2 separate regions of the Homo sapiens genome follow, and region 2 is linked to region 1. Evidence: fine-mapped expression QTL. A gene starts in region 1. The other region holds a variant in brackets. All regions are shown on one strand. Distances are between the middles of the regions.

The links. PIP is the estimated chance that this variant, and not a neighbour inherited with it, causes the effect.
Region 2: its variant is the best candidate, but not a certain one, in a credible set for the expression of LINC00511 in testis (GTEx, PIP 0.75).

The regions. Positions count from the first base shown.
Region 1 is chr17:72,638,269-72,643,643 of GRCh38, reverse strand. It overlaps LINC00511 (long intergenic non-protein coding RNA 511), which reads left to right and starts at 3,172. Exons shown (of 5, transcript NR_033876.1): 1 at 3,172-3,273; 2 at 4,794-4,897. It overlaps LOC105371887 (a long non-coding RNA gene), which reads right to left and starts at 2,969. Exons shown (of 4, transcript XR_934961.3): 1 at 2,926-2,969; 2 at 2,551-2,721; 3 at 815-1,016.
Region 2 is chr17:72,330,518-72,335,892 of GRCh38, reverse strand. No RefSeq gene overlaps it. Among named protein-coding and RNA genes, the nearest start is that of LINC02003, 9.6 kb to the left of the region's middle. The variant T/C (reference allele first, on the strand shown) is at 2,179.

The DNA of each region.
Region 1 (5,375 bases):
GCTTTTGCTATAGTGGGTATTTTGGATGATGTTTTACTCAAGAAACAAACATTTTCAAATTTGGCCCATTCTGAGAAGTGAAGCCATGTATGTCTTCCCACACCTCTCCTCTGTCATTAAACCTCCAGTCATTCTTCTTTCAAGTTTGTGACCTGTTGAACAGAACCCCCCATCTACACTGCTCAGAAGTTGGTGTAGCTTCTTGCATCAAATTTTCTTTGCTTCCAAGCAAAGTGGACACAGAGTTATGTGCTTCAAATTCTCCTCCCCAGGAGGTTCTCCCTCTCACCTGCTATCCTCACTGAACTATAACATCACAGTCACCTATTTAGAAGGTAGGGCCGGGTGCAGTGGCTCACGCCTATGATCCCAGCACTTAGGGAGGCCGAAGTGGGCGGATCATGAGGCCAGAAGATAAAGACCATCCTGGCTAACACAGTGAAACCCCGTCTCAACTAAAAATACCAAAAATTAGCTGGGCGTGGTGGCACCCACCTGCATTCCCAACTACTCGGGAGGCTGAGGCAGGAGAACTGCTGGAACCCGGGAGGCAGGGGTTGCAGGGAGCTGAGATCGCACCACTGAACTCCAGCCTGGGCGACAGAACGAGACTTCGTCTCAAAAAAAAAAAAAAAAAGGTAGGCAAGCATATGGTGTGAAGCTATCTGTAAATGAGGATCAGTGGTTTTTCCTCTCTTAGTCACTAGCTCTTGGGAAACCCCTTTGAGGCCGGTGTTAGATTGATGAAAGGGTCAGGGGTAGGCACACAGGGAATGATCTACCTATGCATATAATGCACTTGTGCCTTCAGTACCTGGTTAGGAGCTAGTCCCACATAAACCATTTCCAGTTGGTAATGGGATTTTATGAGTGTGTCAGATGGCCCAGTACATGACGGACAGCTTGGGTTGCAAATGACATGTAATACATTAGGGATAATCACTTGGCGTCCAGTGGTCAGTCCAGCTCAGAAGTCACTCCCAGCTTCTCCTGCTAGCACAGTCAATCCAGAATCTCTGCAATGTATATCAACAACATCAGACCAGTGTAAAATGATACCTTTCCACCCATTTATTAAGCACCCTTAGTTAGGAAAATCCCAAAATCATGTTGGTTTCTAATCTTGATCCTCGCTGGTTTGAGCTTGCCATTGTCCTTCTTTCTGAAGTGCTGGGATCTAACTGTCCATTCTGGAGACAGTCGAGGGTAATGCATGAGAACTGGCTTGCTCTTGCAGTGAGACTGCAAAGGATGCAAAGAAATGGCAGTGTCGTTACGAAGTGTGTCAGAAGACTGGAGAAGAGGGTTTCCGCTGACGAAGGAGGCTCTTTGAGGACTGGGTGATTCAGAGAACTTCAGGTTTTCCAAATCCTCTCATTTGTCTCCATTTGGATTCTCTGGGTCTTATCCCTTCCTGATCAATGCTTCAGCAAGGCCATGATTTTACCAGTGTAGAAATGTGGCCAGTCCTGTGGATCAAATTTTACCTTTGGTTTTCCCTTTTTGTTGTTGTTTTTTCTTTTTGAGACAGAGGCTCGCTCTGTCACCCAGGCTGGAGTGCAGTGGCACGATCTCAGCTCACTGCAACCTCCGCCTCCCGGGTCAAGCAATTCTCATGCCTCAGCCTCCCGAGTAGCTGGGACTACAGGCATGCGCCACCATGCCCGGCTAATTTTTGTATTTTTGTAGAGACGGGCTTTCACCATGTTGGCCAGGCTGGTCTCAAACTCCTGACCTCAGGTGATCTGCCTGCCTCTGCCTACCAAAGTGCCAGAATTACAGGCACGAGCCACGGTGACTGGCCGTTCTATTTTCTCAGTTGTATGGACTCAAGAGGGAAGAGGGTATTTCAGAACTGTCATAGGAAGCCCTTGGTTTGGTTTAAGTCTCTTCCTTCAGCTGGTAACTTCGGGACTTGAGCTTGCCAGTGTCTTTTTTTAAGCTGTGTGGCATGGCTTAACAGGACTGCCTGGCCGGCGCATCTGTAATCCCAGCACGTTGGGAGGCCGAGGCGGGCGGATCACGATGTCAGTGGATCGAGACCATCCTGGCCAACATGGTGAAACCCCGTCTCTACTAAAAATACAAAAATTAGCCGGCGTGGTGGCGTGCATCTGTAATCCCAGCTACTCGGGAGGCTGAGGCAGGAGAATCACTTTAACCCGGGAGGTGGAGGTTGCAGTGAGCCGAGATCACGCCACTGTACTCCAGCCTGGCGACAGAGTGAGACTCTGTCACAAAAAAAACAGGACTGCCTATTGGGCCTCATATGCTTGACTGTTTGATGGCAGAAACAACTCATTGGCTACAGGCTTTGCTTTGAATGGACCCTTCTTCCAGGTGACCGGTATGATGAGAAGTAGAGAGGTAGGGGCAGGTGTCAGCGTCTGGATCTTCTCTGGGATCCCAACAGAAGACATTTTCGTCCTGCTGTGCTGAAGACGGGACCGGAAGGCCATTGCTCAGGTATTCACTCTACCAGACGGGGCTTTACGCTCCCACCACTTCCTCGAATCCCCCGTGAGGTAGATATTATTATCCTGACTTTACCTGTGAGGACAGGAACGCAGTGGCGGGGTGGGTTCTCACTGTGCGTGGAGGCAGCAGGACGCAGAAATCGACCTCCCCCACGCGCCTCGCCAGCAGCTTTCAGTTTCGTGGCCCAACGCCCTGCACTGCACGCCTCTCCTCTGGGATAATTGATAGTTGAATCTGTGTAAGCTGGAAGCAAATGAGAGCCCAGCGGCTGTTCTTTCCCATTCCTTTTAGATTGAGGCAAAGGGACAAATCTGCGATGTGAATAATACAGCTCCAGGAATTTTTATCAGCGCGCCCCACGCCCGGCCCTGCCTGAGGGTCTTTCTAAGCCACAGGCGTCCCTTCCCAGGTCTTGTCTCTTCCCTTCCGCGAATGCCCTCGGCTCACCCAGCAGGCAGGTGTGATCCGGCTCCGCGCTGGGGCCAGGTGAGGCCGGGCTGCCTGCCCCGGTGCACGTTCCCAGGGCGCGGCGCCCAGTCGGCGGGGCCTGCGGGCTGGGCCTCCCCGGGGCGCCGGGCGTGGCGCCGGGGGCAGGTCCCCGGGCTGCCCTGCAGGGCGGCCGGCCGGCGGCCAGCGGCTGTTTACCTGTGCAGGGCGAGGCGAGACTCGTGGCGGTGCCGGGGCTTTGCACGCAAGGGGCGATGCGCCCCGGAGGGGGAGGGACGCAAGGGGCGACTACTGTTACCTCGCTTGGAGATACCAAGGCCGGTCGGACCCCCCGCTGGCCGAATGTGGGTAGGCTGCCCCCAGTTTGTCCCTTCCCAGGGTGGATCCAGATTTGGGGGCCGGAAGTGTATACAACGTGGGGAGCGCCCTTTGGGAAAAATAATACAGAAGTCCCAGTACAAGCTTAGGTGCAGGGCTTTTTTGGAAGGGGGCCTGTGAGTGAGGGTCCCCGAAGCCCAGGCTTCCTTGGCTTTTAGGTAACCTCACCTCTGAATCAGGGCAGGGAAGCCTGAGGTGCTCGGGGGTTTAGAGGCTTTCCAGACACTGCAGGAACCCTATTTAGTTAATTCACTTTTCCTTCATCTTCCACACACCCCAGCCCAGCACCTGGGAGAAGGGATGGCGCTGTGTTCAGAGGCAGGAGGAACCCAGCCCACAATTGTGCTTCTCTCTCCTGCCCTGGGAAGAACTAAACCCATCTTCCTCCTCCTTCCAGTAGAATGCGGGAGGCTGGGCCTGGCCATCCAGGGCTGAGCAAAACAGTAACCCTGAACCTACCTCTGGATTCTCTCCCGCTCTCTGACCTTCTAGCTCTCAACCCAGTGAAAGTGTCTGGACTCTGCCAGTGGCTTAATAGGGAAAGCGTCCTGGGGAGCCACCGTCTGTCCCCAGGGACTGTCACTGACCCCTCAGAGGTCCCCGATGGGGCTTCTGATGGAGCTGCTCGGACCCCAGACCTTCAAGAATCCTCAGGGTACGAGGCTACTGCCCTCTGCCCCAAGACAGGGAAGATGTGTGTGGGTGGAAGAGCTGGAAGTGTCAGAGGCATGTGAACCAGAACAACTCCATCTTAAATAGGAGCTGGGTAAAATGAGGCTGAAACTTACTGGACTGCCTATCCAGGCAGTTAAGGCATTCTAAGTCACAGGATGAGATAGGAGGTCAGCACAAAAATATGGGTCATAAAGACCTTGCTGATAAAACAGGTTGCAGTAAAGGAGCTGGCCAAAACCCACCAAAACTAAAATGGTCACGAGAGTGACCTCTGGTCATCCTCACTGCTACACTCCCACCAGCACCATGACAGTTTACAAATGCCACTGCAATGTCAGGAAGTTACCCTATATGGTCTAGAAAGGAGAGGCATGAATAATCCACCCCTTGTTTAGCATATCTTCAAGAAATAACCATAAAAATAGGCAACCAGCAGCCCTTGGGGCTGCTCTGTCTACAGAGTAGCCATTCTTTTATTCCTTTACTTTCTTAATAACCTTGCTTTCACTTTGCACTTTGGACTCACCTTGAATTCTTGCGGGAGATCCAAGAACCCTCTCTTGGGGACTGGATCAGGACCCTTTTCCTGTAACAGAAGAGCAACTGCTTTGTGTGGCCCAAGGAAAGATGTGTGATTCTTTGTAGAGGGTGAACCTATGGACCTGTATCCCAGCATCCCCACAGCCCGTGATCCTCCCCCAGATTAAAAGATCAGCTTGGAAATCATGCGGGGTCTTTTCTGATATAGTCTCCATTCTCTGGTGCACTATGAGCCACAATGATACATTTCTCATTGGCCTCCCTCCTCCTGGCAGGGAGCGAGCAGATCCAGCCTGTTTGGACGTGGTGAGGACCCAGCCGTGGGGTTTAAGGCCAAGTTAGCCTCTCCCTTCACTGATTACAAGAGCCATTGTTACAGGTGAGTCTTTGTCCTTAAAGCTCCCAAGATGGTGGCGAGCCGCTCCCATGATGGGGCAGGCAGCTCCCGAGATGGCGGCAAGCCTTTTGTTCTCCGACCTGAGGTTCTTGGCGTCACCGATTCCAAGGAATGGAACGTTGGGCCATGCGGTGAGTGTTATAGCTCTATTAGAAGCCGTGGGTCATGGAAGAGAACCATGGAACCCAGTGACTAGTGTTCAGCTCGATTAGGACGAACCCGGACACTTAGCCACGCAGGAACAGTGGTAAGCCTCTAGCCCGAACGGGAGTGGCAATGGGCGCCTCACTGGATCAGGAGCACAGCGGACACCCTGCTGGATCTGGAGGGGTGGAAGTCAGCAGTGGGTCTACGACAGTGGCAAACAGCAGTGGTGGACGGCGAGTGAAAGCTCAACTCGAGCCGTAACAAACACAGACCAGAAGAGTGTGCAGTTGCAAGATTTAATAGCATGAAAACA
Region 2 (5,375 bases), 310 kb after region 1:
GGTAATGGTATACAGCTCTTCAGAAACCTGGAGTGTGTGGGTTCGAGTGTGTGAGAATGTGTGTGCTTATATGTGTGCGTGTGTATACACACACACACACACACACACACATACACACACAAATCACTGCTTCCCAAACATTCACCCATGGATTCTGAATATACAGATTTAGGACTCTCTCTCTCAAGAGCTGCTTCTCCCCTCTTCCTTGTCCCCAATCTTACAAATACAGTCGCCTTAAATGTAGATTGAGCGTTGTCGGCTTGCATTCCCTGAAACGATTCCATTTTAGTCTGAACAGATGTGATCATTTTCCCCGTGCTTTTTCTCAATTATTAAGAATTCATTGTGATTACTTTCTTACAATTCAGTTTCTAGCACTGTGGAAAAGAGTCCCAAGAAAATTCCAATAAACGCTTCAGGAACCTGCCAGCCCACAGATGTCCTATCCTGAGACCCCATGTGTTGACCATGACATTTGGAGGCTGAAAGTCAGCACACATTGAGAATTCAATGCCGATTCCCTGGTCCTGTTGGCCACTTTTATGGAAATTTGAGTTGAGCCCCATGTTTTCTAGATTCTGGTACTGTATGGATTCTATCAATTTGACCAGTGGCTTAGTAGGTTTTTATAAGTGGTGGTCCACATCCAACAAGCAGTAATACCATATCTTTAAGCTTGTCTCCAAGGCTAACACCTTCCATTTACAATTCAATGAAGTTCTGTCCAAAGAGGGAGGCTCAGCCTATTTGATCCTGCTACTATTTTCAAAGTGGTCAAACCAGTGAATAAGAAGTATGGGTTTAAGCTCTGGGATCAAATGGTGTCCTCTTCACTGATTGTTAGCTAAAATTAATAGATCTCTGGTAGAAAGAGGTCGCACGGGATGAACAGGCTTGTTAATGGAATAGAAGATGGCTGGTTCACCTGGGACAAGTGCTTTGGCTCCAGCTCTCTTCTGCTATTGGCTGGGCCCAGGCAGAAACAGCAACGCTGGCCCTCTAAACGCAGAGGCACAGCTCCCAGACACTCCATCTGCAATCCCTGTTGCCTGGTGAATGCCTTGCTTCCCTAAGCCTTTCAGGCCAAGGGTGTTCTTGGTGGGACAAAGGCCCTGAGGACCACCTCCCCAGCTCTACCCACTGGCCATCACCAAGTCCTCCAGCAGTGGGAAGAATCTGACCCATTCCACTTGAGCACATGGCTCTTATTTCCTTTGATGGAGGGATTAGAGGAGAGAAGACACAAAATAAATGAGAAGAGTATGGGGTGCATGCCCCTGGTAGGAAATGGGGCTGGGAATGAGGGTGATAAGAACGAGATGGAATCTACTATCAGTACCCCTGGGAAGCTGTCCGTGCCCTCTCTTTTCTCTGGCTCATCCCTACTGCATTCTTCCCAGCAGCTGTTTCGACTCTTCTCCTCCTTCCTCAGGCCTCCACATCCACCCCCATCATTCACAGAAGATGACTTCACCTCCAGCTCACTGAGAGGACTGAGCCATTGGTCTATACTGACTCCAAGTGGCCCACAAGTCTGGCTATGCCATTGGAAAGACCTGGATTTCAATCCACCTTCTGGCATTTTTACAGTGGTTTATGAGCAACTTAATTAACCTCTCTTGGGCTCAGTTTTCTCACATATAAAATGGGGCTGTTGTGAGGATTAAACAATGCAGAGAACTTGCATGTAAACAAAAAGTAAGGTTAACCATTCATTGTTACTACTAATGATGTTATAATACTACTACTATAGGCACCACCACCTGCAGCATTCACTCCCTCCAAGTGCAGCCTCGCTTCCTTCCAGAGTCCTACCTCTTGTCTAAGGATGGCCTCTCCACTGGAGCAGAAGCCATCTGTTCCTACCTTATTCCAAATGGTTATCTCTGGCAACTTCACACCCCCTCTTCTTGCCACTGTCTTCCTCTCGGTGTTCAAATATGTTCAACTTCCACATTTAACTTCCCAAATGCTTCCCTGCCCCCTCTTTTTTAAAAAAATTATTCCCTCAAACCACAGTCTCATCTCTTTCCTTCTTTTCACTAACAGATTTATCCAAAGAATCATCTGTACTTATTGACACCACTTCCTTACCTCCCACTCCCTCTTCAACCCACTGAATTTGCCTCTGCCCCACTGTTCTGGTGCAATGGAACTTTCAAAGGTCTTTCCCAT[T/C]GTCCTCTTCCAACCTACTCACTCCTGCAGGAGCGTCTGGCTCTGTTGATCCTGGCAGTCATCCCCAAACCTTCTTCTCCACAGGTGTCCATGAGCCTGTTTCTCCCTGAATCTTCTTTTCTTTTGCACAAGTCTCAGTATCATCTCAGTGTACCCTCACTGTCATCTTTTTGACCCTCTCCCTGGGTGGTCTCACACCCTCCCTCTTCAGCCATGATTGTCCCCAGGATTCTGCCATCTGCCAAATCCACATCTCCAGCTCTGGCCTCTTCTGTGCTCCAGATTTTCATTGCCAGCTCCTTGCCCTCTTACACAAGAATGTCCTGCTCAGCCTGTCCAGTCCCCATATCTGATACTAAACTGTCAGTCATCTAGTGGGTCTGCTTATTTCTTTCTCCATCACTCGTCTGGTAATCAATCGGTCTTGTTGAATCTGCCTTCAAATTGGTACTTTGATCTAGTACTTTGCCTTCCCATGAGTTCTCTGCCTTTGGAAGTCCCTACCTCCTGCTTGGATAGTTGATATGGCCTCTGAATGGCTCTCTGGTCCAGCCTCCTTTTGCCCCTGGTTTCTGTGTCCCATGGACAGCAGGGTGATCTAAACTGAGAGTGATCATGTAATTCTTCATCTAAAGGAAAGTGCTTTTATGAGTGAATGGGGGTTCCATTGATAATTATGCCAGTGGATTATCCTGGGCAGACAGAGATGTGTGTTCACTGTGTTAAAATGATGTTCTGATTACGTAATTTCCTGGTCTGAGAATCTTATGCGCCCCTCCCCCATGATAACATGTAATCTTGCTCATATTTGTAATCTCAGTGATTTGGGAGGCTGAGGCAGGAGGATCGTTTGAGGCCAGGAGTTTGAGACCAGCCTGGGCAATATAGTGAGACCTCTGTCTCTATAAAAATAAAAAAGCTTATCCCGGCATGTTGGTACATACCTATACTCCTAGATACTCAGAAGGCTGAGGCAGGAGGATGGCTTGAGCCCAGGAGGTGGAGGCTGCAGTGAGCTATGGTTGCACCACTCCTGCCTGGGCGACAGAACGAGGCTCTGAGTCAAAACAAAACAAAACAAAAAAGAAACCATGCAATCTCAGCACTGCATCTGTGGCTCTGTCATGATCTGGCCTCCTTCAGTTCTTTAAGCCTCACTCATTCTGGGCTCTGTCTGCACCTGACTGTCCTTAATGCTTCATCATTTCCTGAAATGCTTGTCCCCTCCTGTCTTCAGCCTGTGCTCTCATGGTTCCCTCCCGGAAGCCCTGGCTGTTTCTCCATCCTTGTCCTTCAAGGCTCAGCTCAAATGCCACCTCCTCCCTGAAGCCTTTACTAATACTGGCTGTTTGGATGAATTTCTTCCTCTTTGTTCTGGCAGCACCTTTCACAATGTGCCCAATATTCTGAATTACCTGTGTACACAAATGTTTTCCCTGAAGACTCAGCACTTGGGGGACAGGGCTGGGTAACATCCTTCTCTGCAACTCTGAGAGCTATTAGCATGGTTTCTTGCTTCAAGAATGAAGTGCGGATGGAATGTTCTAAGCACCTTCCCTGTGACAGGTGATCACATAGCCCCTGTTCCAGCTTCACAGCCCTGCATGATGGAGATCATATATATGCCTCCCACTCCCACCCTGTTCCTTTCTCTTTTTTATTTTTTATTTTTTGGGACAGAGTCTCACTCTGTCGCCTAGGCTGGAGTGCATTGGTGTGATCTCGGCTCACTGCAACCTCTGCCTCCCAGGTTCAAGCGATTCTCCTGCCTCAGCCTCCTGAGTAGCTGGGATTACAGACATCTGCCACAAAACCCGGCTAATTTGTTTATTTTTAGTAGAGACGGAGTTTCACCATGTCAGTCAGGCTGGTCTCGAACTCCTGACCTCAGGTAATCTGCCCACCTCAGCCTCCCAAAGTGCTGGGATTACAGGCGTGAGCCACTGCGCCTGGCCATCCTTTCTTCCTTCAAATAGAAGGAAGATAAGCCTGGAGAGATGAAGTAATCCACATAGTTGGGGAGTGACAGAAATGCTTTTCAAACTGAGTCTTGTCTTCTACAGAGAAAATGCCTACCATGTGGGAGCATGAATGACTTCTAATCCTATGGCCTTCCTGTCCACCATGTTGCCCCTAATGATTGTTTATTGAACAAGATTTCATAGAAAGATGGTATGGACAGTGAGATTCACAATGGGCTCTCAATGTACCCTTCCTCCAGCAAGACAATCACCAAACATTTCTATGCAGAGGAAATTAGAGTAAAATATCCATTGAAGTCAATATTGAGCAGAAAAGTAAGTCACAGAGCAACCGCCTAACAGAGATTGTAGGTAGATGTGAGCGTTGGGTACAAATGTTTTCTGCCTTGGTTATGGTGTGAGAGAGCTTTCCTTTTTTTTTTTTTTTTTTTTGAGACGGAGTCTCGCTCTTTCGCCCAGGCCCGAGTACAGTGGCGCTATCTTGGCTCACTGCAAGGTCTGCCTCCCAGGTTCACGCCATTCTCCTGCCTCAGTCTCCCGAGTAGCTGGGACTACAGGCGCCCGCCACCACGCCTGGCTAATTTTTTGTATTTTTAGTAGAGATGGGGTTTCACCATGTTAGCCAGGATGGTCTTGATCTCCTGAACTCGTGACCCGCCCACCTCAGCCTCCCAAAGTGCTGGGATTACAGGCGTGAGCCACTGCGCCCGGCCGAGAGATTTCCTTTTAAGCAAAATGACCTATTGGAGCTTTTAATTTTTAAAATGCAAAGTCTCCTTGTTCTCTTCTCTTTCCTCATCACTGTTTAACAGGATGGCTGGGTCTCTAAGGAAAGTTGAATAATGCCAGCGCCTGCCTCTTGGGTGCAATAGAAAGTATGATAGTAAGATCAAACCAGTCAGGGGAATCAAACCCAAAAGCCAGAAGAGGTCATTGGGAGGACCCCTGGATGAGTGACTTGTCTTGCCACGTGGGCCATTTTCACTTGGTGGTTCTCAACTTTGTATTTGAGGTGTTTGTAGGGAAAAGTGACAAGGAAGTAGACGCCTTTGGAATGCCACTGTCATCCTATAACTCTCTCACTCACCACCTGATATGTGGGCTGCTCTGAGATGTCATTTCTGCCTCCTGGACAAGGCCTCAATGTCTAAAATGGTTTAAACAAGGGGACTCTACTGGAAACATACAAAAAGAATTGGAGCAGGAAAGGGAAGG